Linked DNA regions of Homo sapiens. The protein of the gene in region 2 purifies or fractionates together with the protein of the main gene of each other region. This does not show direct contact. Each region holds a gene or a part of one and is shown on either strand. Other genes may lie near its edges. The genes, in order: TSPAN15, IGSF3, PRKAR2B and MAPKAP1.

Region 1 (6,235 bases), on a different chromosome or scaffold from region 2:
TGAGAAAATGAATGAATGAATAGGTTGTGATGATCACAGAACCCACCTCCTAGGGCTGTTTTGGACATAAAGTGAGATACACATATAAAGTGCTTATCACGGGGCTGGGCACATGGAGGAGCACAAGAATGCTGGCTGGCGTGATTTGTTCACAATTCCAGCCCCTGCAAAGGAAAGGGAGGGTGTCTTCTCTCCTTCCGAGAGAGGGTTGGGCCTCAGATGTCATCTAGGTCATTCTAAATGTCAGGGCTTGATGTGCAGGCAAGACGACCTCCCTCGGTTTAGCTGGTTCTCCAGGTAGCCTCAGTCCCAGCCATGCCCAGTGCCCACTGGGCATTAGTCAGCCAGTGTTTTTGGCCCTTCCAGGCCATAAACACAACCCCTATGGAGAGGGTCAGGCCTGGAGAGCAGGTGCACGGGCACATGATGGGAGTGAGTGCTTTCCATCTCATTGGTTCATTCATTTGTTCATTGAACAAATATTAACTGAGCACCTATTGCATGTCAATCCCAGTTCTAGTCACTTGAAATACAGAACAACAAGACAAAGTCCCTGCCTTCATGGAACTTACACTGTAGAAAGGGAGATAATGAACATAACAAATAGGTAAGCTGCATGGTACGTAGGGAGGTGACAAGAGTGACTTCACTGGGCCAGCTCTGGTGACCTCGGGGGATGAGTCTCTTAGCACACAGGCAACTGGCAGAGGCCTCTCTGGCATCAGAGCCCAGAACCCTTCTCCAGGCCCAGGGGGGACTCACCTCACCCTGCCAGGAGAGCCCCTCACCAAGGGGTGAGGGGATACGATGCATCCATAGTCTTTCCAAAAGTAAAGCCTGCCTGGGTTTACCTGCCTGACCATAGAATCGATATTCTGCAAGAGGCTCTGCTGAAGTTCACAGGCCCCAAGACCAGGGTCCAGTAGCCTCTTCCATCCTGCACGGGGCCACAGGACAGGAAGTCAGAAGGGGGACTCCTGGGCAGCCAGAAGATCACAGCAATGTTTGTGTGTGCATCCTCTCACCCTGAAAAGACTGAGCAGCTAATGGGGACAGGGAGAGGGGCCTTCGCGACAGGCCCCCAAGGGGTAGCCAACAACAAGGGAGGGGAGGTACGTGAAAATTGGTCCCAAGAGCTCAGCAGGCACAGCAGTCTGGAGCCATTTAATGTAGAAGCACGCTGCCCTCTGCACCAACATCTCCGAGGGATATATCCTGGTATAACCAGATTTTACAGCCCTATGTGAACTTCTATGGCTCAAATCCTCTATTGGAAGCTCATATAAGACATTTCTTTTAAAGCTGAGTGTTAGGGAAAAGGTTACTTTCCCTGAAGAACTGGTATGTTCTGCTGGTATGTTCTGCTGAACAGTAACAATGTAACAGACCATGTCTCCCTTTTCCTTTTGGTTGCCAGGAAACTCTAAGCCAGTGGTCTCCAACCTTTCTGGCACCAGAGACTGGTTTCAAGGAAAATAATTTTTCCACAGGATGGGGTGCGGGGGGGTGGGGGGTGATGGTGTCGGGATGAAACCATTCCACCTCAGATCATCAGGCATTAGTTTGATTCTCATAAGGAGCATGCACCCTAGGTCCCTTGCATGCACAGTTTACAATAGGGTTCACACTCCTATGCGACTCTAATGCTGCTGCTGATGTGACAGGAGGTGTAGCTCAGGTGGCAATGCTCCCTCAACCTCTGCCCACCTCCTGTTGTGCGACCTGGTTCCTAACAAGCCACTGACCGGTACTGGTTCATGGCCTGGAGGTAGGGGAGCCCTGCTCCAAGCCACCAGACACGAGGCTCAGCTCCTTTTCAGTGAGTCCATGAGGTCCTGAGGCTTAGATAGCAGGATTTTATATTTTTCTCCATCATCTAGGCCTCCTATCTGAGAATACAATTCCCACAGTCCTGATTTTTAATGCTATTTTAGTTTTTTACACTACATATTTCCCGTGTACTCATTCAAATCCCAGGTTGAATAGTACAGTGTAAAATAAATAGATCTGGACACAAATCAACCAGTTCTATGGAGGAAGCGAACGCCCTGTTTCACATTTAGAGAAAATCATCCAGGTGTGGTGGCACAGGGAGACTCAATGGTCATGTGTAACACAGGGTCAGATAACCCCGGCCAGGGGAAGGCTCCTCCCTACCTCAGTGCTCTCATTCAGATGCTGTCTTTAGATTCTACCCTATCTGCAGATGATGTCCGTGTTTACACCCCTTGCCTAGTCGTTCCCAGAACTCCAGACTCCTATATCCAACCGCATCTTTGACACCCCTGATGGGATGCTGAACAGGCTCTCAAACCCCCCACGTCCACGGTGAGCTCCTGGTCACCCAGCCTGCCTCCTTGCAGTCCTCCCCTCTCAGGCAGTGGCAGCCCCGTCTTTCCTGTGGCTCAGACCAAAACCTGGGTATCCTCCTTGATTTCTCTCTTTCATTCATCGCCCACATCTGCTATGCGAGCAAATCCTGTAGGCTTACTTGCAAAATACAGCCAGAATGTCACCACGGTTTGCCACTTCCACCACCACCACCACCACCCAGCTCCAAGCATCTGTCTTCCCCTCCCTGGTGCAGGGATGCTGTGGGGAGCCCTTAGGTGTCAGCCCCCTGCAATAACTACTTCATGTGATCATTAATTTTATATGTCAACATGACCAGGCCATGGGATACCCAGATATTTGGCCAGACATTATCCTGGGTGTCTCTGTGGGGGTGTTTCTGCATGAGGCTAATGTTTAAATCAGCAGACTAAGTAAAGCAGATGGCCCTGCCCAAGGGGGAGAGGTCTCATCTGATCAGGGAAGGCCTGAACAGAACAAAAGACTGCCCTCTCCTCAGTGACCATAAGAGAATTCTCCCTGCTTGGCTACCTTCGGGCTTGAACTGAAATGCTGGCTCTTCCTAGGTTTGAAGCCTGACCAGCCTTTGAATGGGAACTCCACCCTCAGCTCTCCTGGGTCTCCAGCCTGCCGACTCACCCTGCAGATCTTGGGACTTGCCCGCCTCCATAATTACACAAGCCAATTCCTTATCATCAATCAATCCCTCTCTTTCCTCTTGCTGTATTAGTCTGTTCTTGGCTGAACAGAGCCAGCAAGTCCCTTCTTGGGTGGACCACTGGACTCATGCAATGCCTGGTCAATGTGGGTGGGAGTGTGAAGGCCTGGCCCCCTCACCCCAGTAGGGGACAACTCTGAAGGGCTGTCCTCATAGATGTGGCTGAGGCCTCCAGCCGAACTGAGCTGAGGCTGCATCACTGCTCAACTCCCTTCATTGCCCAATCCCGCTTCTGGCTCCCACTTCCACAGGTGTTGATCCAAGAGCACCTTCCTGGACAAGATGACCTATGACCCCTGGATCACTGCATATCAGCCCCTAACTCTATCCCTGCATCTAGCATGTCCCTCACAACAGCCAGACTGATTCTTGTAAAACCAAGTCAGAGTGCCCCTCTTCCATGCAGCCCTGTATGGTCCATCACTCAAGGGTGCCCCACAGTCCTGCCTGTGGCCTTCGGGGTACCCATGACCTCCCTGACTCCACCTCCTACCATCCTCCGCTGTGCTCCCTCTGCTCCAGCCACTCTGTGCATTTCTCAAACGCCCTGGGGTGATTCCCACCTGGGGCCTTTGCACAGCTGTTCTTGCTGCCAGGAATGCCCCTCCCCCAGACACCTTCCTCACTTTCTTCAGAGCTTCACCCAGATCCCGCCTTTCTCAGTATCCCAAACTGCAATCCTCCATGCCCTACTTTCTTTTTCTACTCAGCATTTATGATCCTCTATCTTTTACTTATTTTGTTTGTCAGTTTTCTCCACTAGGATGTCACCTCCTTGCGGGCAGAGACTTTGTTTGCTACACCCCCAGAACCTGGAAATGTGTCTGGCATAGAGTAGGTTCTCAGCCAATATTTGTTGAATGAATGAATGAATGAATGAATACAAGTTTGGCTTCCACATCTCAGCTTAGGTATTCAGATGCTGCTGCCCTGGGTGATGAGGTTCAGGATCACCCCACGCAGGCCTCTCTGGAAACTCTGCTACTCCTCAGCACCCCACTTCCCAGAGAACTACCCTAAAATGGCAGCTAACACTTCCAAACAAAGCTTCCCTCCTGGCCCGGCCTTTTTTAGAGCTAGTGCACTTGGCACTGGCTCTCTGACTCATGGGCGAGGCCCCCACCCGCAGCTGCTCAGTTTACAGAATCCAGCAGTGGGCACAGAATGGTGGCAATGTCAGGAGAAAAACTTTCCATGACTATCTGGGCCATGAGTAATTGCAAAGCTCTCCACCTCGTTCCAATCCTGAAACAGTTTCTGGACACATTTGTCAAACACAAGGACTGATGAAGCCTTTCACTTAAGCGCTGACAACACAAGACATCATCCCAAATGACCAAGGTGACAGACCCGAGAGGATCGTGCTGGGGAGAGGAAGAGGATGGCATTTACGTCACCAGACCCCCTTCCAAGCACTCTGCTGCTGATGATCACCAGGACCTCAAGGCCAAAGACCAATGGAGATGCCCAAGGTGCAGGTCCTGCCTGCCTCCACTAATGCTGCAGAGCCAGCTACCCCCGCTAAGCTCCCCTGGCCTGGGCACCTCTCCCTCCTGCCCTCACCTGGCCTGCACAGTTCTCCAGAGTGTAGCTCAGGCAACAGCTGCCTGCACTTCATCCCAGCCCTGCCAACCTTGGGCAAGACACCCAGCCTTTGAGTGCCTCAATTTCCTCATCTGTAAAGTGGGTAAAATAACAGTACATACCTCACAGGGTTGTCGTGAATACTAAATGAGTAAATACCACCAAAGTGCCCAGAGCAGGCCTGCACAAGGTAGGTGCTCAATAGATTTTAACCAACACCACTAAGAAAGACATGGTCTCCCTACCCCCGACCCCCAGAAGCTCCACTTTCAGGAGCCCTTGAGAATCAGGAAAGCCTCCGCTCTGCCACCAACTCCTACTTCCCTGCCATCCACCCACACCACCCATCTTCAAGTTGGGAAGAGAGAAAAGAGAACATTTATACCACCTGGGGTCCCCGACAGCCCCCCAGTCCCCACAGGAGCAGTGTCTACCGTGTTCCTGATGCAGCAGGTGTAGGGCACCCCACAGGCCAGGGGTCCAGGGGCACTGCAGTCGTGGTACTGATTCTTGCTCCAATCTCGGTAGTCCTCCCCGCCACAGCACTTGAACTGAGGGAAGCAAGCAGGAAAGAGGAGCTGCCGTCATCGCCCAGGCCCTGCTCAGACGACAGGAAGGGGCCCTGTCAGGAGACGGAGGCAGTTTATTATGTGGGTCACCCTGGGGCAGGGAGAGGCTGTACACTTTCAAGTCAGAGCTGTCAAAGTGTGGCATGGCTGCCTAGAGGGTAGTGAACCCCCTGTCACTAGAGAGGTATGGAAGCCAAGGCTGGGCTGCCTCTTGGTGGGATATCAGGGTAGTGACTAGGCACTGGGAGGAAAGGTCCTTCCTTGACAACTGGCCTCCACTTTCTTCATCTTCGTGTCCCCAAATGCAGGTGCTAGGCTGGAAAAGATGGCCCTTAAAGTCCCAGAGACCAAGCATGATTCTGTGAAAGTCCCTGCACCTCAACCAACCTTCGCACCCACCCTAGGAGCCACCCCGTCCAGCTCAGCTGGCCCTGCCCTTAGCAAGGAGAGCACCCACACCTCACAACCTGCCTGGAGCTCTCCCCTTAGCCGAGCCCCTCCCTGCCTCCCCTCCCTGCTCCTGTAGGAAGTAGTTGGTAACCCTCCTGATGGCTGGTATGTGCCTGGCATTGTCCTGGGCACTGGAGAGACAGGGTGAGCAAAAGCAAGGCAGCCCTTGCTCAGGTGGAACACATTCCAGTGGAGAGACAGAGAGTGAGCACTGGATGGAAAGGTGCTGTGCAACCTGGAAATGGAGAAATAGGGGGAAAGTGGGGAGGGGCAGCTCTAGGTTGGCAGGTCATGAAAGGGCTCTTTGTAGAGAGGATATTTCATCTGAAACATGGAAACAGAAAGAAGCCAGACGACCCATGCAAAGGCCCCACGCAGAAACAAGCTTGTATTTCAGCAGCAGGTGCGGAGGCCAACAAGCCTGGAACAGAGAGAGTGCAGAGCATGAGGATGAAAGGGCGGCACAGGCTGGACCATGCAAAGCTTTGCCAGCCAGCTGAAGCAGGGAGCTGGGACTGGAGGGCTCAACCAGGGCTGCAGTACACGTCCTGGTAGCCAGACA
Region 2 (6,235 bases):
TGCTCCAAAAACAGACAAGAGGGCAGCCTGTGGAGCGCCTCCCCAGCAGCTAATTAATGACGATGTTCACCTTGCCAGTGGCAAGAAGCCAAGGTCTAATGAAATCCATCTTAGGAAGGTGATTTGAGATCTCACCCACCCCATCATCATTAACCTCGGCTCTGCATTCCCCTACCCAAGCCTTTCCCGCTACTAAAAATGAAAAAAAAAAAACAAAAAAACAATTCTAAGTTCCTCTTAGGGAACTAATAGTACAAGAATTGTTCCACCTCCACCACTCTCTTCACACTTAGTTTTTCCGCCACAGGGACCAAACCACTTCCCAGCTGAGAAAGAAAGCAGGGGCAAGGTGCAGATTCCACCCAGGGACAGCAACCTAGGCCTCCTCCAACCGAGCTTGTGTGGAGGGCAGGGGCAGGGGCAGGGCAGGGATGCCTGGCCAGGCTCCAGCACTCTACTGGTCAGACTCTTGTCTCTTTAGTCCAGCTCAACCCCAGGAACTGCATCCAGACCCAGGACCCAGCCCACTGGTCATGACCCTGGCCTGCCAGCTGGCTTAAGCTTGGTTTGGCAGCATCAAGGGTTGATTGAGTCCCATGCATCACAGAACCAAAACTTGTGAAAGCCACAGACTGCCACTTGGTCTCCCTGTAACACACAGACAAATGTTCTGAATGGATGGAAGGATTTAGCAAGCCAAGGTGTGGCAAAGTCCAATTCCCAATGCCATGACTGAGCAACACTGCGGAGCATCTCCCGCAGTAAATCGGACATTCTCTCCAGGAAGACTTGTTGAATTCACAAACCCACAGACCTTCTCACGCCATCAAGAACACACCAGGCACCACTTAGAGAGAAATCCTGTGTGCCACGGCCCCACCCTCCCGGGTTCATCTTTTTTGTTAGCAAGTCCAATCTTCTGCCTTCTCCCTTCTTCAAATGCAGAAAGTCCTCTAGGGCACACTAGGAATCCAGGACAGGGTTTACCATTAAGCTCCCAAGCTCTGGAAACTAGATTTGCATTCGCTTGCCAGTCGACTTTTCAGATTGGATTCCTATAATACTTGAAACAACCGGCTCCCTTTTCATTCCTTTCCAACCCAATTCACCGCATGCAAATGATATCTATATCAGTGCAAATGACACCACCTGAATTATCTGGTTCTTGGCCAAAAAAACTGGGTTGTTCAGCATGGAGTAGAAAGAGCTTTAAAATGTATTATTAATTGGGGCCGGATTATTTTTGCAACTGTTACTAAGGAAACCTCAATTGCTATAGTAACTGCATATGTTAAACTGGAATCCTATGACTAAACTTCTATTCAGTCACATGGTCTGAGAACATGAATTCAAGGAAGAGAAATGTTTCAAAGCATTTCCATTTTTTTTCCTTCCCATGTCAAAATATTGTGAAGTGTTGAGAAGCTTGAAAGAGAGGCATTTTTTAAATTTGGTGCACGTCTGACAGGTGGGCAAGGGGTCAGCTCCTATTCTATGCTCTGGATTTCCTCCCACATCTCCAGGGCAGGTAGGACCTTTCCTGAGGCACAGGGGAGACTGGAATCTCCACATATAATTAGGGAGCCCTCCCATGTCCTGCCAGAGCCCTGCCCTGGGCGGTGTACAGCTTGCGTGCACCACCTTCCTCCACAGAGCTAGGAGAGCCCTGCCCACTTAGAGACCACAGGTGTTTTCATCTGCAAAATAAGAACAATGTCTCTATCTCCATTAGGAGTTTTGTGCAGACTAAAAGCAATGGTCTATAAAAAGAGTTTAGCACAGAACCTGGGATATAACAAACACCCAGTGAATTTTAGCTATTCTCATTCCTTTTTGGTTTCTGTGCCTTGTCCCAAGTTCAAAGTTCAACACTTAGAATGGGAGTTGTCAAGCATAAGTGGCAATCTTCCTGCTCAAAGTGCTGTTCTCGGACCAGCAGCACTGGGAGCTTGTTAGAAATGCAGACTCTCAGGCCCCACCCCAGACCCAGTAAGTCAGAATCTGCACTTTAACAAGATCCCCAGGTGATTCACAAGTAGCTTCAAGCCTGAGAAACCCTGGACTTGGCCGTGTGAGTGAATGGGCTTTGAGAGGCCATAAATGCAGACGTGAAAGAAAAGAGTGAGGCTTGGTTAACCCCCAACAGTGAATTGGCAGGAGGAAGAAAGAATCCAGCAAGAGACAGGAAGAGGGTCCGAGAGTTGCTCCAGCTCACGCCAGCAGCTGCCTTCACAGCAGCCCCCAGAGGCCAGGCCCTGCTTTGAGGGAGTGGCCCTTTCTTTCTGCAACTGGAGAGTTTCCTTCCCAGGCTTGTGATTAAAACTTGGAAGATCTGTGTTTTGTATGGTAGGAGAGGCTGTTGTGTTTGTTACAGGCCAGGATAGGGTGGTTTCAAGGTGAGACATCAGGAAGAGGGAAGAACTTCGCAGCGGAGACCAGCAGCAGCTTTCTCAGCCAGCCTACCCTCCCTTCGGATTCCACTCTGTGCGTGCTCTTCTCACTCAAAACTCATTTATTTCTTCAATAAAGGATTCCCTTACGCTCTACTATAGCTGTGTTACTGCTGCCTTACAACGAAGGTAATTCTTAAAATCTTCTCTTTCTTACAAAATTCTAAGCATATGCAGGGCAGGGACTCTGACCCAATCATTGTTAAACTAATCAATGAATGGTTGAATAAATGTGGTTACTTTTCAAAAGGAGGGGCAATTCTGATTTTGATAGAAAAGAGAACATTTCAAAAGGTATATGGCCCCTGAGCTAGGCCCTGAGAAACAAGCAGAGAAGGAGAATCAAAGGGCACGCCAGAGAGAGGGGACAAGAGGAAAAAGATGACAACTACCCTGTGCACTCTATTCAAGGAGGAGCAAGTGCTCAGGTGTAGTGGATGAGGTTAGAAAGGTAAGCTTCGGCCACACTGCAAGGGGCCTGCAGCTTGTACTTGATCCTGACCACCTGTGGCCCTCAGGGTGCACGCCATGGATCTGCAGATCAGCATCACCTGGGAATCTGCCAGCCCCTGCTAAGTCAGAAAAACTGCGAGTAAGGCTCAGCAACCTGCAGTCTCATGAGCCCTCCAATTGATTCTGATGCACATTCAAGTTTGAGAAGCAACAGCCGTGCTGCTGAGGTGGTTGCCGGTAAGTCTGGAGAAGGTGGTTTCTGTGCAGTGCTGTGAGCAGCAGCCAGAGTGGCACGTGCAAAGAGATGGGCACTGAGGGAGGAAGACACTGCTCTTTATTAAAGACAACAGACAGTAATGCTAGAGATAGAGGCGGCCAGTGGCTGCGGCAGGAGATGTTTCAAGTGGAGAGAAGCAAGTCAGATGAGAGACAAGGAAAGAATGCAGGGTGAGCTGCATGGGAAGCCAGTGGCACAGGCGCCTGCCAGTCAAACTGTTACTACCCCTGAGTCCCTCTGTCCTTAACACCCCTTGGCTCCCTGCTCTCTCCACATGACCATTCCCTATTTGGGCCCTCAATGATCTCTTTCTCAGGCTCTTGTAATTGGCCTGCATATGACACTCCCTCCCTCTCAGCCTAGCCACAGCCAGGGGATTTCCCTAAATGGCAAATGGGGCATGCTACTGCCCACGGCTGCCCACCCCACAGCCCGTGACAGCAGTTCTCAATAAGGCAGCTAATTGCAAGCAGGTCTCTGGTTGCCATATTGATTTGGGGAGGGGTATATATTCAATGGAATAAAGCCATTAAAGATGTAAAATTGTATCTGGGACAACTCCATGCAACAAAACTCTGCCTCGTGTCCTGTGTGACTTTCGAATGACATTCATATGGGCAAAAATTATGCCTCTGGGCCTAGAACCTACTTTCGTTTTACTATAATCACAATACTTTTATTTTGCATGGTTTTAAAATATGCCAGGTCAGTCAAGAGAGGATTTTCCTTTGTTTTGTTCAGAATTGTAGCAAGAGTTACTCAGGACTTCAGAAACCCTGTCAGGATGGCAGTCCTGCTCATGGTGCCAAGTCTGATACAGTGACTGTCAGTGTGCATTTAGAGACAGCGTTGACTGTGACTGTGCCTCCTAGCATAGCTGTCCTGAGCATTTACGCACTGAAACTCATTATTTTACTATGAACTACTTTTTTTAAAAAAAACTTTCTTTATCCCACAACTAGGACAATATAGCAAATTTTAAAGATATGATTAGGAATGTTATATTGTATATGAATTTCATTTCTGGGTAAAGGGAACATTATAAATTATTACAAAAATGGAGTATATGATCTGGGTATGAGCTAAAGTCCTAATTTCTGAGTTTAGGATATTCTCATTTATTTAGCAAACTTTCATCTGGTCCTATGTGCTCAGCACTATTCTAAGCACTTTATAAATATTAACTATTTGGTCCTCACCAATCCTATGAAATAAATATTATTCCCAATTTTATAAAGACACTTGCCCAAGGTCACACAGCTGGCTTAGTGGTAGAGCTGGAATTCAAACCCAGGCCGTCTGGTCTGTCCTTGCTTTTAGCTATTACATATGCCCACCCTCACCCCATGCTCCCATGTACAAAAGGGACTTCTTGATCCCTGCCAGCTTGCCTGGGGGTGAACCCTCCCCAGACCCCATGCTTTAGTCATCTCAAGATAAGCATGCTGCTCCCACCCTCCGTGACTATATTTATTCACACTCTTCTCTGAGCCTGAAATGCTCCACTCCTCCTTCCCAACCTCCCACCCTCACCCCTACCCCATTCCCTCCTCACGCCCCCTGCCCCCGTTCATGCCCTGTGCTGGCTCTGCCTCCACACCTGTAACGCTTTTCTGCTCTCCTTTGTCCCTAGGCCTGCTGCCTCCCACAGAGCCCGCAAGGCAGGAACGTGACACACCCATCTCAGCAGCCTCACCAGCATGGCAACCTGGCACTTAGTAGGTGCTCAATGCATGCAGAGAGACAGGGAGGGAGGGGCAAGGGGAAAGCAGCAAGAGTCTGCAGGTGGAAATAGCTAATGAAGGTTACCCAGATGTGCCCTACCCTGCCTTACCTGTCTGCAGGTAGGGCAGTGACCCTGGCTCCTTGATGCCAATAACAAGTGCCCCGGTGTTACCATGACAACAGGCCTGAGGGATCTGGGAGGGGCTGAGCTCTCCTCTTAGGGCTCTTGCACTGACACCCATTCTATCTTGGCACAGACAACAGGCAGAAGCCACCTGGGATGGAAGAAGGAGAACCCCAGACTCCCCTGAAAGAAGGCAGAGGCCAGTCCTCTGAGGGATGGGGCAGCCATCCCTCAGAATGTGAAAGGAGAGCCAGTGTTCACATGCTCTGGACTCATGGAAGTCAAAGAAAAGCCCTCTGCTATCCCAATCTGCCGGGTCAGCAATAAGAAATAGAAGAAAACCGATTTGGCAACATCCAGAGGGTATTAAATATTCATCCTGACTGCCCATCAGTAAAATCCCAGCAGAATACACCCTCTGACAAGTCGGCTTTCCACCACTAGAGGCTGTCCTCATGGAAGCTTGTTTATGGCTTTGTCAATTTTAATGTACAATATTTAATAGCCAAACCAAGATATTGTCATAAACATTTGGAAAATGAGTGCTAACATTTCCCTTACTGCTTCTGTATTTAAGGATATGTAATTGGAGGGTGTTTTGAGCTAAAGAAAATCAGAAGGAAGCAAGGCAATTATGCTTCACAATTAAAAGAGAAAAGAACTGATTAAGAGCTAATAATCAAACATGTGAACTGGCTGAAAGTCTTGCCTAAGCACCCCTTGAGGGGTCACACTATGTGATCAATGGGGATCAGACTAAGCTAGATCAATGGCAACGTTGACAGTGATGGCATTCCTTGAAGATTCTGTTGGGGATATGCATATGCAACAGGAAGCACACACAGGGAATGGTCAAATAACAGATCCACAAGTCAACTGTGCCATCCAACCAGAGATTCTGATGAATACTGATATGGGGGCAGGATCAGCAGGTGGCTCCAGCAGGGACGAGTCTGGGGCACAGACCACAAAGAAGCTTGCTGCGATAAATGATATCACAGCAGTGGAAGGCTGATGGTAAACAGACCAGCATGAGTGAGTCAACAGTCCCTGGGTTCCTATTTGATTCTGATGGAATAAGAATATTTAACACAATATTCTTTAAAACGGGGGTAGCAGGGGACATTTCTATGGAAGACACCAGAGCAGGGCTAAGAATCTATGTTTTGAGGGGCAAGGTACGCAGGGAGAGCAAAAGAAGAGAGG
Region 3 (6,235 bases), on a different chromosome or scaffold from region 2:
ATACAATGGAAACACCTAAACAGAAATTGAAGCATTAGTACTTTAATTTTTCTATCAAAAACCAAACCATTTAGCTATTATTTTAGATAAGACAGTTACCAGCTTTTTTTTTTTTTTTTTTTTTTTTTTTTTGTGGATGCACATAAATTGATGTGCTGTGTCTGGGTAGAACAGGAGTGAATATTGAATGGTTATTTTATTGTTGCAAATCTCATTCCATGGATTCCAGTAAATTTCCAGCCGTCAAGATTTTGTTAACAGCTATGTTGAAAAACAATTGTGTTTCTTTTTCAGTTGTGCAAATACAAACAGGGGACCTATGAATCCATCAATTTGGGGTTTATTTTTGACCCATTAAGAAAATCGTTTGTCAGTAGTAGTAGTAATAAAGTCCTACAGTGGAGGTTGGGGAATGATGGAATATTTTAAGGTGAGAGATTCAGTGAAGAAGACTGAAGTGACTAACTGCAGGGTCTACTTTAGAAGTGTGGAGAATCACAGAAAGTGCTGAGATCTGGGATGGCCTATTAGAAACAATGTGTGAAACTTGGAAGGTAGGATAGTTCTTATTTTAAGAAAAAAGAAATGATTCGTCTTACATTTACTCTCTTTAGACTTCATTTTTTTCTGTTTTTGTTTGTTTTTTGGTAGAGATGGGTCTTCCTTTCTTGCCCAGGCTGGTCTTGAACTCCTGGCTTCAAGCAGTCCTTTTGCCTCAGCTTCCGAAAGTGTTGGAATTAGAGGCGTGAGCCACTGCTCCCTGCCTAGACTTAAGACACCATCCTTTTGTCAGAGATGGCCTCATAGATAGTATGTATGATCAATTTTGTTAATAGATGGGGCAGGTGAGAGACAGAGAAGTTCCTTATCCAAATTTGGTAGGTTTTGGCCTTATAAATTTGAGTTTGTTCATACAACTGTTGCCAACATTTTGTGCGCTATTTATATTAACTTACATCATATGAATTTTTTCTGTCTTCCATCAAGTTGATTGATAAGGTTTAAAAGGATGGGCTAAAGAAAAGTACTTTTGTCTTCAGAATTTCCAGGTTTTTTTGTTCTTTGATTCTTTTTCAATGAAGTGAAATCTAATATTAGACTATATTTTCCTATCACTTGCTTAAGAAGAGACAATGGAAAAGAAACAAGAATGCAGTGATTTTTCTGAATTGAATGAATTGTTACTGTGTTCTTGATCCTGTTCTTGTCCTTCCTGTCTTATCTATATCATCTAGTTGTGGTTGGGACAGTCACAAAATCCTACTCTAAAAACCTCACTATGATGCTTATCATTATTTTATGAGAGCGAATTTTGTGCTTCACAAATTCAAAATGACTCAGACGGTTTCATTATGTAATTTTATGGAAAGAATTTGAGCTAAAATTTTCAGGTCATGGCTTACATGACAACAAAACAATCAAATAAGAAAATCAGAACTATAAACAGTTGGTGTAACATTTATAAATGTTTCAGCAATAGGCTCTGCCATGTGTAGCTTAATATGTTTGGAAACTAAAAAAAAAAGTCTTTCCAGTTGCTGCTGTTTAAAAATGTTTCTTAATTAAAAAAAAGACAAAAGGTCAAAATGTAAACACATGTTCCACATAAAAGTGAAGCCAAGAAGATATACTGTATACAGTTATTCCTGTATCTGTTTGACTAAGGATGACATTGTTTAATTTACATTAGCTGTTCCAAGACAAAATAGTCCATGGGAGTGATGTTGAGGGGAATTTGGGGGGTAAAAAGAGAAGGAAAAAAGCCGTTTGTTCCATTTGTTCTAATATATTTCAGTTACACCCAAAGAGCATCTTTTTCAAAGGTCATGTTGAATTAAAACATGATTCGGCTGTTTCGTTCTCATTATTATAGAAAACTAATGTCTTTTAAATGGTGTCCTTTTAGGCCGGGCACGGTGGCTCATGTCTATAATTCCCAGCACTCTGGGAGGCCGATGCGGGCGGATCACCTGAGGTCAGGAATAGGACACCAGCCTGGCCAACATGGTGAAACCCCATCTCTACTAAAAATACAAAAATTAGCTGGGCGTGGTGGCGGGCGCCTTAATCCCAGCTGCTTGGGAGGCTGAAGCAGGAGAATCGCTTGAACCCTGGAGACGGAGGTTGCAGTGAGCCGAGATTGCGCCACTGCACTCCAGCTTGGGCAACAGAGGTATACTCTGTCTCAAAAAAATAAATAAATGGTGTCCTTTTTATTTAATACTAGTTATTATTAACATTTTTGACTACTGATGTATCAGATGTGGAACAGTGCTTTACACATTGTCATCTGAACAGATGCTTTACACATATGTGATTTAGTCTTCCCCAGAGTAATTGGTGGAATCAAGGTTTGAACCTGGTAATCTGACTTCAGGGTCTTCCTCTTCAACCACGGTTTATACACTTCATTTCAGTAATTCTTTTAGCAGTAACGTGGTTGAAAATAAGCACATATCAAAAAATAAGCTACCTACTTTTCCCTCTAAAAGTTTGCAGGCTAGCCCTGCATTGATCTCTCCCTTTTACAATTTGCATTCTCTGTCTATTCAACCCAAATTAGCATTTCATGTACCTTAGAAACTCAGTACATTTGTTTATTTTATTTTATTTTGTTTTTGACAGAGTCTTGCTCTGTTGCCCAGGCTGGAGTGCAGTGGTGCCATCTTGGCTCACTGCAGCCTCTGCCTCTGGGTTCAAGTGATTCTCCTGCCTCAGCTTCCTGAGTAGCTGGGATTACAGGTGTGTGCCACCATGTCTGCCTAATTTTTGTATTTTTGGTAGAGACAAGGTTTTTCCATGTTGGCAAGGCTGGTCTGGAACTCCTGGCCTCAAGTGATCCCACCTGCCTCAGCCTCCCAAAATACTGGGATTATAGGCAAGAGCCACCACACCCAGCCTACATTTATTTATTTTAGAAATAATCACCTCATGTACTGAGCTGCTTAATTCTCTAAATTTATTTTATTATATACCTTTATTAGCAAAATATATTTGAGTGTACACCCCAATATATGTTGATAAATTTTATACATGTGACAATATATTGACTTATATGTATGATAAAGCTTCCTACAATATAAATTTTGAAAGGAGAAAGTAAAAAGCAATTCTAAGCAAGTTGTAATTTTCTCCTACATCCCAACATATAGCCTTATACACTGTTTTGGCATACATGAACCCCGTTTTGGAGACTACAGCTGTAAACAATACCACTTAAATTGATACTCTAGTAATATATAAAGTAGCCATGATCAATTTTGGTTCCCTGATTCAAGCTTCTAGATTATAAAGAGTGTGTGTGTGTGTGTGTGTGTGTGTGTGTGTGTGTGTGTGTGTCTTTTTTAAAAGACAGTCACTCGGTAAGTTAATTGACTCAACAGAAGTTGGCAGAATACAGAGGAAAATTCTATCTTATAAAAAGGAAGTAAAACTACGTTACCTGAAGGGGAAAATCCAGGCTTTTTCTTTTAAAACCTGTTTTCCTGTATATACCTTGAATTCCAATTGTATAGTGGTAATGTTTTTGGTGCAACATTTGTGGATGGGACAAAGAGAATCGTATTATAGTTTTCTGGTTAGGAATCAGTAAATTATGGAAATACCAGTCAGAATTAGAAGAAAGTCTAAAGTTTAGAATAGTTGAAAAGAAATGCAATTTCATAGAGTATTTCAGGTTATTTTGTTAGGAGAGAGATCGTTCACTATTTGCTTTCTTGTAACTTTTGAAAAATGTTTAGCATGTGCTTGGATTACCTATTAAATAAGTGTAAAAATACATGAAAGAAAGGCAATTCTTTTGTAAATATGCATTAAGTAGTAAATAAAACACAGTAGGCCGTGTGTGGTGGCTCACAGCCTGTAATCCCAGCACTTTGGGAGGCCGAGGCGGGCGAATCATGAGGTCAGGAAATCGAGACCATCCTGACTAACTTGGTGAAACCCCGTCTCTACTAAAAATACACACAAAAAAATTAGCCTGGCGTGGTGGCAGTTGCCTGTAGTCCCAGCTACTCGGGAGGCTGAGGCAGGAGAATGGCGTGAACCCGAGAGGCAGAGCTTGCAGTGAGCTGAGATCGCAGCACTGCTTGACAGAGTGAGACTCCATCTCAAAACAAAACAAAACAACAAAACAAACAAAAACCACGGTATATAGCGGCACATGACATGATTCTAAATTGATATAGCCAAATATTCTTGTCTTAAGTCATTCTCTTGGTCCTGAATTCTCACTCCCCTCTCCCTGTCTTTCTGCTAAATCTCACTCTTTTCCCAAAGGTTTAGTTTATATTTTACCCTACCAAATATTTTTGCAAGTTTCCCTCCTTGACGTTAATACTATCAATATGGTAGGATGAATATGGCCTCCATCAGTCAACTTTGCAGATGTCAAGGGTCCTCAGTCTAGGTAGGCAAGAATGTGCAGGAATATACCCTCTCTTTCTAAGTCTTTCCTGTATGTGTTGTGCTTTGCTCACAGTAGGTGTGCAAATGTTTTTTAAAATATTGAACACTGTCTAATGGTAAATGTGTATGAATGTAAAATGATTGAAAACTTCTTAGGCATGTAAATATTTTAAATAGACTTTTTTTTATTATACTTTAAGTTTTAGGGTACATGTACACAACGTGCAGGTTTGTTACATATGTATACATGTGCCATGTTGGTGTGCTACACCCATTAACTCTTCATTTAACATTAGGTATATCTCCTAATGCCATCCCTCCCCCATCCCCCAACCCCACAACAGGCCCCAGTGTGTGATGTTCCCCTTCCTGTGTCCATGTGTTCTCATTGTTCATTTCCCACCTATGAGTGAGAACATGCGGTGTTTGGTTTTTTGTCCTTGTGATAGTTTGCTGAGAATGATGGTTTCCAGCTTCATCCATGTCCCTGCAAAGGACATGAACTGATCCTTTTTTATGGCTGCATAGTATTCCATGGTGTATATGTGCCACATTTTCTTAATCCAGTCTATCATTGTTGGACATTTGGGTTGGTTCCAAGTCTTTGCTATTGTGAATAATGCCACAATAAATACATGTGTGCATGTGTCTTTATAGCAGTGTGTTTTATAATCCTTTGGGTATATACCCAGTAATGGGATGGCTGGGTCAAATGGTATTTCTAGTTCTAGATCCCTGAGGAATCTCCACACTGACTTCCACAATGGTTGAACTAGCTTACAGTCCCACCAACAGTGTAAAAGTGTTCCTATTTCTCCACATCCTCTCCAGCACCTGTTGTTTCCTGACTTTTTAATGATCGCCATTCTAACTGGTGTGAGATGGTATCTCATTGTGGTTTTGATTTGCATTTCTCTGATGGCCAGTGATGATGAGCATTTTTTCATGTGTCTTTTGGCTGCATAAATGTCTTCTTTTGAGAAGTGTCTGTTTATATCCTTTGCCCCCTTTTTGATGGGGTTGGTTGATTTTTTCTTGTAAATTTGTTTGAGTTCATTGTAGATTCTGGATATTAGCCCTTTGTCAGATGAGTAGATTGCAAAAATTTTCTCCCATTCTGTAGGTTGCCTGTTCACTCTGATGGTAGTTTCTCTTTTGCTGTGCAGAAGCTCTTTAGTTTAATTACATCTCATTTGTCAATTTTGGCTTTTGTTGCCACTGCTTTTGGTGTTTTAGACATGAAGTCCTTGCCCATGCCTATGTCCTGAATGGTATTGCCTAGGTTTTCTTCTAGGGTTTTTATGGTTTTAGGTCTAACATTTAAGTCTTTAATCCATCTTGAATTAATTTTTGTATAAGGTGTAAGGAAGGGATCCAGTTTCAGCTTCCTACATATGGCTAGCCAGTTTTTCCAGCACCATTTATTAAATAGGGAATCCTTTCCCCATTGCTTGTTTTTGTCAGGTTTGTCAAAGATCAGATAGTTGTAGATATGCGGCATTGTTTCTGAGGGCTCTGTTCTGTTCCATTGGTCTGTATCTCTGTTGTGGTACCAGTACCATGCTGTTTTGGTTACCATAGCCTTGTAGTATAGTTTGAAGTCAGGTAGCATGATGCCTCCAGCTTTGTTCTTTTGGCTTAGGATTGACTTGGCAATTTGGGCTCTTTTTTGGTTCCATATGAACTTTAAAGTAGTTGTTTCGAATTCTGTGAAGAAGGTCATTGGTAGCTTGATGGGGATGGCATTGAATCTATAAATTACCTTGGGCAGTATGGCCATTTTCACGATATTGATTCTTCCTATCCATGAGCATGGAATGTTCTTCCA
Region 4 (6,235 bases), on a different chromosome or scaffold from region 2:
ATTTTATAAATGAAGGAAAAAAAAAAGGGAGGCTCAAAAAGGTAAAGTATTTTGACTGAGATCTTATAGCTAACGAGTAATAGGGCCAGGGTTTGAACCCTTTCTGTCTCTAGGGCCTAGTACCTAACCGTTGTCCTGCAATATTTTCTTTGTTGAGTATTTTCACTTAACTGAGAGGGTGCTATCTTGTTACTAGAACAAATATTATTACAGTGTTTTTTGTATGTTTTGTTTTGTTTTGTTTTTAGAAGACAGGGTCTCACTATGTCACCCAGGCTGGAGTGCAATGGTGCAATCATAGCTCACTGCAGCCTTGAATGCTGGGGCTCAAGTGATCCCCCCACTTCAGCCTCATGAGTAGCTATGACTACAGGCATGTCCCACCATGCTCAGCTAATTAAAAAATAATAATTATTATATATATATATTTTTGTAGAGATAGAGTTTTGATTGTGTTGCCCATGTTGGTCTTGAACTCCTGGACTCAAGCAGTCCTCCTGCCTCGGCCCCCCAAAGGGTTGAGAGTACAGGTGTGAATCACTGTGCCCGGCCTCATTACAGTTTTAACAGGACTGAGGAAGCAGTTTTTATAATTAAGTTTCTAAAATAAGAAGTTGATTGTATAGTAGGTAATTTTGATTATAAATTTTATTTTAAAAACACAGGCCAGGCATGGTGGCTCACGCCTGTAATCACAGCACTTTGGGAGGCCAAGGCGGGCGGATCAACTGAGGTCGGGAGTTTGAGACCAGCCTGACCAACATGGAGAAACCCCATTTCTACTAAAAATACAAAATTAGCTGGGCATGGTGGCGCATCCCTGTAATCCCAGCTACGCGGGAGGCTGAGGCCGGAGAATCTTGAACCTGGGAGGTGGAGGTTGCAGTGAGCCAAGATCACGCCACTGCACTCCAGCCTGGGCAACAAGCGCGATACCCTGTCTCAGAAAAAACACAACAACAACAACAACAAAAACACAATACTATCTTGACAGGAAAATATATTCATTGAGCAACATTAATTTGGTGGTACATCATTTTTATAAAACCCCTAGTAACTCTGAAAGCATTGTCTGTGCCCTTTTAAACACTTCACAATCATATGACAGGAGGGGAAATGTAAACTGATGAAATAGAGTTTTGTACTTTAGCACATCATTTGAGGAAAATACAACTTGTTCCCCCATGACCTTATAAAGTAATGAGAAGATTGCATGATAGTGAAGGGAGAAAGAAAGGAAAATATATTGTTTTAACAGTAGTTATGTGCTTCGAGTGGCCTGACTTGTAAGGAGTTGCTGTGATTTGTTTTGCAAGAGTGCAAGCCTTCCTTTCTGATTCTATAGAGATCTCATTGACTAGAGCTGCAGCCCCTAGTGCTTATAAGGATTTCCTTTCAGCTTAGACTAAATCCTTTTAAGCTCCACAGAACAGGGATAAATGTTGATTTTCAAGGTGGCATTTTACTACACTGAATGTGTCTGAAAAATGATTCAGTCATTTTCTGCCTTATTCTTAAATATTTGCTGTGTACATCATGTTTCTAGGTAGGTGAGCTCGTGAAACAATATGAAGAGGAGAAAATAGCCTTTTAAGGAAATTGGCCCACAGAAAGGATGGCCTTCTTGGACAATCCAACTATCATTCTAGCTCATATTCGACAGTCACATGTGACCAGTGATGACACGGGAATGTGTGAGATGGTTCTCATTGATCATGATGTTGACCTAGAGAAGATTCATCCTCCTTCAATGCCTGGAGACAGTGGGTCAGAAATTCAGGGAAGCAATGGTGAGACTCAGGGCTATGTATATGCCCAGTCAGTCGATATTACCTCAAGTTGGGACTTTGGTATTAGAAGACGCTCAAACACAGGTAAACATTGTGTTCTAGTCATGTCTTCTGAGCTTTAAATCAGTAAACAGTCTTATGGAATAATGCATAATATTGGAATAGGCTTAATGGGGGATGTTTCCGGGTATTAATAGGAACATGCATATGTCAGACTAAGAGTGAGTCTGAGCAACATCTCCATCTCTGCGACTGCGAATGGAGAGGGCCTCTAGAATATTATTAGAAGTAGACAGAAGGGGGATAGTGAAAAAGTTGGTTAGGAGAGACATGTTGGACATTTCTAACAAGTCATTGTGTAGAAAGGCAAGTGGACTGGCTTTGAGTGTCTTCACACAGCAACATTAGTCCCAGTAGGTAGACTACCCGGAGACAGATTTCAGGTTGACATAATAAAGAGCATTTAATACAGAGAGGTGACCACCCAAAGAGAGCAGGCACTTCTTGCCCCTGGAGGAATTGTGGGGGAGTGGGGAAATGGGAGGAGACACCTGAGTATTTGTTAGGGCTGGTTTTAGTAGGATTCTATACATAGGGTGTGAGATTAGAAAAGGGGCCCCTGTTTTTGATACTTCGCCTTTATTTTCTTAAATTGATCACCTTTTGATTTTTCTGGCTTGAAAACACTCAACTTTGGTATACACGTATTTAGTCATTAGCTTTAAAAGCTTATTGCCCATTTTCCCACTTATATTTTTTTGGTGGCCTTGTTTCAAGGGGAATGTGATGAACCAAGGACTTTTTTTTTTACTTAGACAAATTATTTAGAATACATATTGTAGTTCTAATATGACAGGTATTCTAGGAGGTAATTTTTTTTAGATAATCAGAAAATATAATCTTCAAATTAGCAGTAACCTGCTAACTCCCAGGAAAGGTAATGGCAAGGAGATATAGTAGAACACTGAAAATACTTACATATTTATTTTCATGGTCCAAATGTAAAACACACATAAAGGAATATTGGAGGTAGAGCTGGATACAATTTACTGTGAAAGGCACATTCAAGTTTTGGTTCAGAATTCAGTATCTGTGACATAAGAATAATTTGCTCTCATGATGAAAATAATTAATAGCATTTCCCAGTATCTAAAGGAACTTTTGTCAAAATAGGATTTGAGTGAAGGTTTGAATATAATTTAGAACCATTGATTTTCAGTTCTCTAGTTGAAACTGACTTCCTTGCAGGTTATTGAGATGATATCTTATATGACAGGTTGAATGTATTTCAGTGGGAGAATGCTGCTAAATTGAGAGCTTTATGATTATATTACTTTGGCTGTACCCTTCACATTTATTAATTGCAATTGAATGTAGTTTTCTTCAGTGTTGGTTAGATATAGTGACATTGTCAGAATGCTCTTCCCAGCATAGTTTAAATTTCTGGTAAGATTATTTTCAGTGTTTCCCTACCACAATGCTAAGGCAGAAGTGTATAATTTCCTATCTTGAAAGAGGCGGAAAAAGAGATGTATTTATTTTCTATTAGCAAAATGCTGGGATAGGAAGCTGAAGATTAGCAAGAGAAAACTGATTTCAAGAGATGGCATCAATTGTGACTTTCTTTTTTATTGTGGTCTCTGTATGCGGCAGTTGTTAAGTGCATGCTGGGTGGTATTTCTCTAAAGGATCAGTTCACTGATTTTTGAAGGTTGATCAGCCAGTGGCAATATAATCACAAATGCATAATTTTAGGTGACTCTTGTTGGAATTTCTTTAGGTAGCACTTAGATGCTAATAATTAATTGAGATTGTAGGTTGTCTTAGTGACCAAAGAATTTACTTTTTAATCCATGCAGCATATCTTAAAATTTTGTAAAAGAAAAATTGTTCTTTTTAAGATTTGACTAATGTTACAAAGATACAAATCATTTATTTTACTACCTATAAACTGTTTCAGCCCACTGAAGAAAAGCTATGCTAATTTATATAGCTTTGACATTTTATAATTTTCATGATTTTTAGATAAAGGATTTTATATTTAAAACTTTAATAGTCTAGTCTGAGTTCATTTATCTTTAATTTTTGAAATGGGTAGAGTAATTCATAACAGTAATTTTATTCCTGTAATGTAATATTCACTTCAGTTCATTTGTGCATTAAAATTCCTTTAAGACCGTTATTAATGATTTATATAATGAAATGTCATATTAATCACAGAAGTTTTCACATTTTATTATTCTCTTCCATGTTAATACTATCTTTATGATCTCTATTAGTGTTTTATATCCTCTAATTTCAATTATAAATCAAGAATATTTTCATGTTTTTGTTGGTATTTGCTTTTCAGGGGTGCCACCTTTAAAATTTTATGACTTTTTCTCTACATATGCAATATAAAACATCTTTATTCATGTAAAGGTAGTTAATTATGTCTTTGTTTATGGTAAACTTTCATTGACAAACTTACAGTTATAATATTTCTTTTCAAGCTCAAAGATTAGAACGACTCCGAAAAGAGAGACAAAACCAGATCAAATGCAAAAATATTCAGTGGAAAGAAAGAAATTCTAAGCAATCAGGTAAATGGAAATGATTTTAATTCTTAATTTGAGATTTATATATTTAGTTTATTATATAAGAACTTTTATTTTTAATTCATCCTTTTAAATCCTCTGGACTTAGATACCTCTAGTGTTTTGAGCTTTGAGCTCTTTCTCTTGTGTGCCTTGACCCTCTGAAGCTATATGCTCTTTAGTTCTTGGCTTTTTGGCCACCCTTCACTCTGGGTCACAGGGATTGATGTGTGCAGGGGACATTTTTTACAAGCTGTCATGTCAGTATTTTTTTCTGATTTTTTAAAAAAATATAGGCCAAGGAGTACCCTATGATTTGATTTTTATTATTATTATTTTTTTTGAGATAGTGTTTCACTCTTTTTGCCCAGGCCGGAGTGCAATGGCACGGTCTTGGCTCACTGCAGCCTCTGCCTCCCCGGTTCAAGCGATTCTCCTGCCTCAACGTCCTCAGTAGCTGGGATTACAGGCGCATGCCACCACACCTGGCTAATTTTGTATTTTTAGTAGAGATGGGATTTCACCATGTTGGCCAGGCTGGTCTTGAACTCCTGACCTCCAGTAATCCACCCACCGTGGCCTCCTGAGGTGCTGGGATTACAGGCATGAGCCACTGTGCCCAGCCGATTTTTTTTTTTTTTTTTGAGACGGAGTCTTGCTGTGTCACCCAGGCTGGAGTGCAGTGGTGCCATCTCGGCTCACTGCAGCCTCCGCCTCCCTGGTTCAAGCAATTCTCCTGCCTCAGCCTCCCAAGTAGTTGGGACTACAGGTGCACACCACCATGCCTGGCTAAGTTTTGTATTTTTAGTAGAGATGGAGTTTCACCATGCCAGGCTGTTCTCGAACTCCTGGCCTCAAGTGATCCACCTGCCTTGGCTTCCCAAAGTGCTGGGATTATAGGCGTGAGCCACTGCGCCCAGCCCCTGTGATATTTTGGATGAGTTTCCAGGTTACAGATTTCTCTTGGCAGTTCCAACCTAGACTTTTCCTTGCCCCATTAGTGGGCCTAGTAACAGTCTTTTTTGCATATATGCAAATTCTTTTCCCTTAGTGTAAAAACCATTATGTTGCTGGTATTATTAGCATTTGCTGTATATTTTCATATAGTATGTGTATAAAGGCTGGCCATATTATATACTTTCAAAGCTTCAGTCTCAGCAAGAAGAAAAGACTTGGGGAGAAAAACAATTTCAGAAATAAAATGCTATTAAAATATTTTATAGTGGTTATATCATGTTTCCTAGACTTTCTCTTTTTCTTCTCCTTTAAAAGAAATATCTGCAGTCTGTCTTCTGTATCCTCCCAGCACCTCCCAATATCATATCGGCATGTAATAGATGCCTAATAAATATTTGTGGATTGGCTCCATTGTTACACAATAATTATAAGTCTAATAATATTAAGGTTTATTATACTAATAGCAGCCTCTACCTCGTGCTCTACTAGGTACTTTACATGCATTACCTCTATTGCAGTGATCTTGCAAGGTGTAGGTATCGTTGCTATTGTTTACAGATAAGACAAAGGCTCAGGGATTTGATGAACTTGCCAAAGTTACCCAACATGGAGGGAAGTGTGATAATGAGATGTTTTGTGTCCAGCTCTGCCTGCATATAAAGGCCAGTCTCTCTGCGCTAAATCACTCTGTAAAGTGCTTCTTGATTTCTCATACTATGGTTATAAACTCAAGTATCCTTAGCAGGTATGATTTTCTTCATGACTGCTACTAAGTGATGACTGTGTAGAACCAGAAGTCCCAATTACTTGTTTTTCTTACTTATATCTCATTCTGACTTGCTTGAATGCAGTAGTTCTTGAATTTCTCTCTAGTTTTACTCTGAATACTTTCAAAATCTCACGAGGCTAGCC

Evidence for each region.
Region 1: the proteins of IGSF3 (region 2) and TSPAN15 purify together in Homo sapiens (co-immunoprecipitation; one large-scale study listed by IntAct). This does not show direct contact.
Region 3: the proteins of IGSF3 (region 2) and PRKAR2B fractionate together in Homo sapiens (co-fractionation; one large-scale study listed by BioGRID). This does not show direct contact.
Region 4: the proteins of IGSF3 (region 2) and MAPKAP1 fractionate together in Homo sapiens (co-fractionation; one large-scale study listed by BioGRID). This does not show direct contact.

What each region holds. Positions count from the first base shown.
Region 1 is NC_000010.11:69,497,250-69,503,484, reverse strand, and holds part of TSPAN15 (tetraspanin-15), read right to left. Parts: intron 5,277-6,235; coding exon of another isoform or gene 5,206-5,276; coding exon 5,089-5,205; intron 1-5,088. UniProt on the Homo sapiens protein: Part of TspanC8 subgroup, composed of 6 members that interact with the transmembrane metalloprotease ADAM10.
Region 2 is NC_000001.11:116,590,171-116,596,405, forward strand, and holds part of IGSF3 (immunoglobulin superfamily member 3 isoform 2 precursor), read right to left. Parts: intron 5,572-6,235; exon of another isoform or gene 5,163-5,571; intron 4,899-5,162; exon of another isoform or gene 4,814-4,898; intron 3,141-4,813; exon of another isoform or gene 2,981-3,140; intron 1-2,980.
Region 3 is NC_000007.14:107,050,231-107,056,465, forward strand, and holds part of PRKAR2B (cAMP-dependent protein kinase type II-beta regulatory subunit), read left to right. Parts: intron 1-6,235. UniProt on the Homo sapiens protein: Regulatory subunit of the cAMP-dependent protein kinases involved in cAMP signaling in cells. Type II regulatory chains mediate membrane association by binding to anchoring proteins, including the MAP2 kinase.
Region 4 is NC_000009.12:125,667,955-125,674,189, reverse strand, and holds part of MAPKAP1 (target of rapamycin complex 2 subunit MAPKAP1), read left to right. Parts: intron 1-1,546; 5' UTR 1,547-1,615; coding exon 1,616-1,874; intron 1,875-4,282; coding exon 4,283-4,372; intron 4,373-6,235. UniProt on the Homo sapiens protein: Component of the mechanistic target of rapamycin complex 2 (mTORC2), which transduces signals from growth factors to pathways involved in proliferation, cytoskeletal organization, lipogenesis and anabolic output.